Homo sapiens: one gene and its partner. The protein of the gene in region 1 purifies or fractionates together with the protein of each later gene. This does not show direct contact. Each region holds a gene or a part of one and is shown in the gene's direction. Other genes may lie near its edges.

Region 1 (3,374 bases):
TTTTGAAACTGTCTAGATGAGTGGAGCAGAACTTACACAAGGGCCAGCACTTGGGTTTACCAACTGCCACCTCTATTTCTTCTCTTCAATAGGTTGCAAACTAAATCGCCTGAACTCTGTTGTTGGTGAATATGCCAATGCGTGTTTACAAGTGGCCCAAGACTGTGGGACTGACGTACTTGACCTGTGGACCCTGATGCAGGACAGCCAGGTACGGTGGCTTGCTCGGTCCTCTCGGGGTAAATAGGATCACACAGAAGTAAACCAGGTGTGTGTGCAGCAGCTTTCCCTAGAAAGGCCCTGCTTAGCTAAGACAGTCATCCCTTTAGCCAATGAAAACAAACAGGCTTGGGGGAGGGGAGGAATGGAGGTTCCAGGATGGCTCACAAGCCCAGCAGCTTAATTCAGCCAGGCTCCTTGGCTAGGAGTTAGTGCGCAGTGACATCAATGAGCAACACATGGCTCATATTTATGAACGTCCAGGCCAAGTTCTTCTTTCATACAGAGAATGGCAGAAAGCTAAAACTTGTTAATAGGTAAAACAATGAATTTAAATACAGTATTGGCTAATAAAACTGTTTGAGATATGTAGTTCTAATTAAGTTACTTTGTTTTAAAGCCTGAAAGCACAAATATAAAAGGTAAAAAGCAGGTCCCATGGAATGGTGCACTGACTCAGGAGACAGCTGGTTTCTGACGCAGTCACACATACACTTAGGGAGGACCTGGCAGTCCACTCCTGGGTTATCTGCCCTAGAGAAATGAAAACTATGTTCACACAGAACCTGGGTGTAACTGTTGACAGCAGCATTATTCCTACCTGCTGGAAACACGCCAGTGTCCTTCTGTGATGAATAGGGAAACTGGTGTGTCCGTGGAATGGGATACTACTCGGCAATAAAGAGGAGGAACTGACAAGCGCAGCAACGTGGGTGACTCTCGAGGCGCTTCACTGAGGGAAGGAAGCTGGTCTCTGAAGGCTACTTACTACATGAGTCCATCTGTTTTGGTGTCTCAAAAAGGCAAGACTTGGGCTGGGTGTGGTGGCTCACACCTGTAATCCCATCACTTTGGGAGGCCAAGGCAGGTGGATCACCTGAGTTCAGGAGTTCAAGACCAGCCTGGCCAACATGGCGAAACCCTGTCTCTACTAAAAATACAAAAATTAGCTGGGCATGGTGGAGCGCGCCTGTAATCCCAGCTACCCAGGAGGCTGAGGTGTGAGAATCGCTTGAACCCGGGAGGCAGAGGTCACACCACTGCACTCCGGTCTGGAGGATACAGGGAGACTGTCTCACCCTCCCCAGCCCACCCCCCAAAAAAAGGCAAGACTGCAGTAACAGAACAGGTCCATGGTGGCCAGAGGTTAGGGCAAGGAAAGGTATGGCTAAATTCAGGTTCCACACAGATACTGGTGAAGAGGGGCAGACAGGCACTGGTCTTTTTTAATTTTTCTGTGACCTTGTGCTACTCTTTTGTAAAGAGCTTGTTCAGTAGGGCACATTAAAGGCTACTTCATTGCTATGCTGGGATCCAGAGAGAAAGCTTGGACGGGACTGATGATATTTGAAGTACTCAAGGGAAGGAAGGATCCAGTGTGCGGGAAGCTCTTTGGACAAACGGGAAGACTCACAGCCTCACCGGTTTCCTCTATTCCTAGCTGTTAGGTTTAGGCTACTTGGACAAAGCAACATAGAAAACAGCCAAGAAACTAACCCAAGTGCCAACTTTTTCCTCTCCCCTAAATATTAATCCATACCAATCGTTCCAATGACCTACACATTTATTATCCATCTGTAATAGGGAAAATGGTCACCAGTGGGAAAGTCATACTACCACGTGGATGCCGAGTCACCAGTCACCTTTGGAGGCCCTGAGAGCCTAAGCAGATCTGGACCCTAGGCCTCTAGTCTTCCTCTGAAACCCTGGAGTACTGGAACCTTCCAGAATTCCAGATTAGGAGGGGCCTTGGCAGCTTGAGTGCCAAAAGGGTCGACATCTAGAGTTCTGTTGTCTAGGAAAGGAAACTGCAAACTATTGGGCTAGTTTTGCTCACATGTCTTTTTCAATTTAATACAAAACTGAGAGGGTCGTCCTTAGAGATCATCTCATCTCAAACTGCCTAGATGAGAAAACCAAGGCCGAAGAAGAAGTGCTACTATTATATGATAGCATCTAAATTTCTGGTCTATTAAAAGTCACATAAGGCCGGGCGCGGTGGCTCATGCCTATCATCCCAACATTTCGGGAGGCTGAGGCAGGTGGATCACCTGAGGTCAGGAGTTCGAGACCAGCCTGGCCAACATGTTGAAACCCCATCTCTACTTAAAAATACAAAAATTAGCCAGGCGTGGTGGCAGTCACCTGTAATCCCAGCTACTTGGGAGGCTGAGGCAGGAGAATCACCTGAACCCGGGAGGCAGAGGTTGAATTAGGCCGAGACTGTGCCATCGTTCTCTAGCCTGGGCAACAAGAGTGAGACTCTAGCTCAAAAAAAAAAAAAAAAGTCACATAAGCTAGTTGGCCACCCAGATTCTAACAGAGCTCTTGGCTAGTGAGATTCTTCCCCAAGAAAGAAATGGCTGTATGGGTAAAATTCTTATAGTTCAGGGCCTGGTATGGCTGCTCATGCCTGTGATCCCAATACTTTGTGAGGCCAAGGTGGGAGTATTGCTTGAGCCTAGGAGTTCAAAACCAGCCTGGGCAACATAATGAGAGACCCATCTCTACAAAAAGCACAAAAATTAGCCAGGTAGCCAGGTATGGTGGCACGTGCCTGTAGTCCCAGCTGCTCAGGGGGCTGAGGTTAGAAAGATCGCTTGAGCCCAGGAGGTTGAGGCTGCAGTGAGCCATGATCATGTCACTGCACTCCAGCCTGGGCAGCAAAGCAAGACCCTGTCTCCAAAAATATGTGTATCTTTTTAAATATGTACTCTTGAGTTCAGGGCAATGGGAGGGAGACTGGACTCCTGTGTCCCAGCAATTACTGTTCTAGGTTAGATGGTAGAAGTTCTTTCTGCCTAAAAACCTGCCTAGAGTCAAAAACAATATTGACTCATGGGGCCCCTGAACACTCCTAATACCAAATTTTTCATTTTTGCTGATTACGTTAATAGGCCATATTTACCTGTTAAGGTTCTTTCAAATAACCTGAGAATCATGTCATATGATTCAGAAGACCTGGAATGAGGTCCCAGCTCACTTAATGGTGAGTGACTTTCATGAAACTCAATTCTATAATATGGAGACAGCACTATAGCACTAGTCAGGGTTCTCTGTGTGTTCAAACACCTACGTAAATAGCACATCAGTGCTACTGTAGTCCAAGACACCTCTGGTCAGATGCCTACAATGAAAGGGGCTGGTGATATTTC
Region 2 (3,500 bases), on another chromosome or scaffold:
ATTCCAGACCTAGTGTTTCTGCAGGGGTTGTGACTCACGGCAATTATTTCCAGAACTGAAACTTTCTTGGAATGAAATGATCAAAGGCTGGGGCCAAATAGGTTTTAATTAAATGTAATTCATTGAATTCAGCTTGGTGAATAACTAACCATTACCATCAAAAAGTAATTAAATGAATGCCTCTCATGTCTGGGAAAATAATGACATAGTTTAGATTCTGTTGAGACTGACGTTGACTTTTCGTGATCTTTGTGATCAGGATTTGACCCTAAAGCATGGCTGGAGGACTGGTGCAATCATCCCAGAGTTGAGATCTGAGCTCAAAATCATGAACACGGAGCAATACATTCAAACCATGACCTGGCTGCAGACCTTGACTGGCTTATTGGAACAGATGCAGGTTTGGATATATTATTTTTCTCTCTCACTTTTTCTTTAAGCCTGAGGTTAGAAAGTTACTTCAGGTATTTTCTGCTTAATTGTTATAAAATATGAGGCTTAAGTTGTTTTCAGTAGACTGTAGAATAACGATTGGGGTTCTTTTGCCTAGACAGTGTTTGTGGGGCCTTTGTTAATGCAGGTGTTTGCTCACATTCCTCTGTCAGTGAAGATCCAGTGTCCTCACTTCCACACTGAAGCCTGCTAGGAGCTCTCCTGTGGGATGCTGGGATTCAGGAAGCCCTGCCAGTGCTTGAGTCTGTGCTGGTTCTGTCTGCACCTGCTACGGTGGGACTTCTCCATTCTGGGCCTCAGTTTCCCCATCTGTGAAATAAAGGGGCCGCTGGAACGAAAACTTCAGTCTAGGCACCATGGCTTACTGGAAAGAGTCTCAAAGCAAGAGTCAAGATCCCTGGGTCCAGCCTCAGTTGATTCTGAGGATAATACCTGCAGTTTGCTGGCTTACTGGAGTTCCCTGGCAGTTACTTCCTTAAGTTAAGTTAGGCAGCCAGTTTTGGCTGGTAAGTGAGGAATGGCAGTTTTATCAGTCGTTTCCTGGCCCATGGAAGCTGCCTCTCTTTTGTAGCTGTATCCCCTTAATTCTCCATGTGCCCCTTTCCTTTCCAGTTCCATGAGGCACCTTGCTTTCTCCCTGGCTCCAGCTTGCCTGGGCTACAGCCGTCTCAGCATGGGTGCTGACATTTTTAGGATCTGGGCACAGGTGCTTGCTCTCTTGGCTAACACACCTGCAACCTGTGGCCACAGCCTATTGCCCATGCCTGCCCTCTGGCTTTGGAAATGGGCAGGGAATTGCCTTGCCTGCCCCAGCTGGCACTCTGCTTGGGAGTGGCTGAGCAGTGAGATCAGGCAGGGCCATGAGTGGCAGGCCAGATTCTGGCTCCAGGTGCATGCATTCCAGAGCATGGGGCCCTGCACGTCCCCCTGGGCCTTGTTTCCAGGATGCACTGGGCTCCATTAGTTCTTGGCTCTTCTCTGATGAGAATCCTCTGATGAGGATTTATTCTGTTTCCCTCGCTATGCTTGTCTGTGAGATGATTTACTAAAAATATACAGTGTCAATTCTGAGTTAGTGTAGTTTAGAGTCTGTGCATGTCATACACTACTAATAGTTACTTTTTATGTGCTGGACACTGTGCTGAGTGCTGGCTCTATACACTTTGCTCATTTAATAGTCACAGCTGTCCCTTGCAGGTAGGTACAATTTTCCCATTTTAGAATAAGGAAACAGTTTTTGAGAGGTTAGGTATCATTCATGTCTGAGGTCATAAAATGGCAGGGCAGGGCTTGAACCAAGTCCCCAAGTCCATGCTTCAGAGCACTGCTCTAATGTGCCTTCCTGTTTAGAGGATTCGGGTATAGGCAAGGCTTGACTCACCCTCAGTGAAATCTCTGTGACCCTGGCAGCTGGTCATAGGTACAAACACAACTGCACGTAGATGGTATCAGTATATTTTAGCTTTGGAAAGAGGTTTTTTTTTTTTTTGGTTTTATTTTGTTTTCCTTTTTCTGACCTGTGTAAAAAGTTGACTACTAAGGAATGTGTGTTTTAGAGAATGGAAGTGCTGAAAATATTTCTGTGGTTTGTAAAATTAATTATATGAGGTGTGGGGTAAGGGAAGGAAGAAAAGGGAGTTGAGGTTTACATAGCTGCCCCCATTTTGCAGGAGAGAAAACTGAGACAGCGAGATAGGTGACTTTTCTAGAATCACAGTTCTCGGTTGGCAGAATCAGGCTATGTAGAAATGTCGTAAGAACTTACCGTGTTCTGGACACTGAGACCTTTAAGTTCATTTCATCTTCACAGAAACTCTTTGAAGTAGTTCTGAAACATCACTGCCATTTTACTGATGAAGACCCTGAGGCGCAGAGGAGATATAACTTGCTCTAGTGAGGGGTGATGCTGGTGTTTACACACAGGCCGACCGACTCTAGACCCTTAACCTCTGTGCACCTATATTGATTGCCTTGGGTTCTGGCACTTTGTACAGAGTTCTGTCAGGTTGGATTCACTAGGATATAGAGGTGTATAGCTGCTAACTAAAAAAACATCCAAATCAGTGTCCTATCTCACTGTCACCCTCTTCCTCAGTGTTCCCTTAGAAAGTTATAAGTTATTCCACTGAGCCTGTGGTAGATGTTTCTAGAACTCCCCCTTGGGGATTATTTTCAGAGCATGTAGCACATTATTTGGACAGTTTTCTGAGGAGAAAAATTGGTCCTCTGAGATTGGGTTTGATTTTTTCAGAGCCAGTAGAGTGTCATTTTTTTGTTTGTTTGTTTGTTTGTTTTTGAGATGGAGTCTTGCTCTGTCGCCCAGGCTGGAGTGCAGTGGCGCGATCTTGGCTCACTGCAGCCTTCACCTCCCAGGTTCAAGCAGTTCTCCTCTCTCAGCCTCCCAAGTAGCTGGGACTACAGGCTTGTGCCACCACGCCCAGCTAATTTTGTATTTTTAGTAGAGATGGGGTTTCACCATGTTAGCCAGGCTGGTCTCAAACTCCTGACCTCACAGAGTGTCATTTGGAGCCGAGTCTCATGAATGAAATAGAAGTATATAAATTTTGGTTGTAATTTCATTAGTTAGCCTTGAAGTGCATTCCAAAATGGCTGTGGTTCATGGTGGTGGTGCTGGCATTGGTAGCCGCTTCTCAGGTAACCAACCAGTCAGAGGCCACATTTAGACCACAGGTCAGCAAGCTTCTGCAAAGGGCCACATGGTAAATATTTTAGGCTGTGCAGGCTGTAGGCTCTGTTGCAGCTACCCACCTCTGCACTTGTAGCACAAAAGCAGCCGTGGACAGTATGTGAATGAATGGTTGTAGCTGTGTCCCAATAAACTTTATTGGTGGACACTGAAATTTGACTTTCATGTAATTTTTACATGTTAGGAAATTCTTCTCTTTTTTTTCTTTTGAGGCAGTCTCACTCTGTTGCCCAGGCTGGAGTGCAGTGGCATGATCTCAGCTCACTGCAGCCTCTGCCTCCCAGGCTCAAGTGATTCTCATGCCTACCCTCCTGAGTAGCTAGGATTACAGGTGTGCACC

Evidence for each region. The genes of interacting proteins can lie anywhere in the genome.
Region 2: the proteins of IAH1 (region 1) and NT5DC3 fractionate together in Homo sapiens (co-fractionation; one large-scale study listed by BioGRID). This does not show direct contact.

The regions. Positions count from the first base shown.
Region 1 is NC_000002.12:9,484,340-9,487,713, forward strand, and holds part of IAH1 (isoamyl acetate-hydrolyzing esterase 1 homolog), read left to right. Parts: intron 1-92; coding exon 93-211; intron 212-3,374. UniProt on the Homo sapiens protein: Probable lipase.
Region 2 is NC_000012.12:103,782,235-103,785,734, reverse strand, and holds part of NT5DC3 (5'-nucleotidase domain-containing protein 3), read left to right. Parts: coding exon of another isoform or gene 1-59; exon of another isoform or gene 60-127; intron 128-259; coding exon 260-400; intron 401-3,500.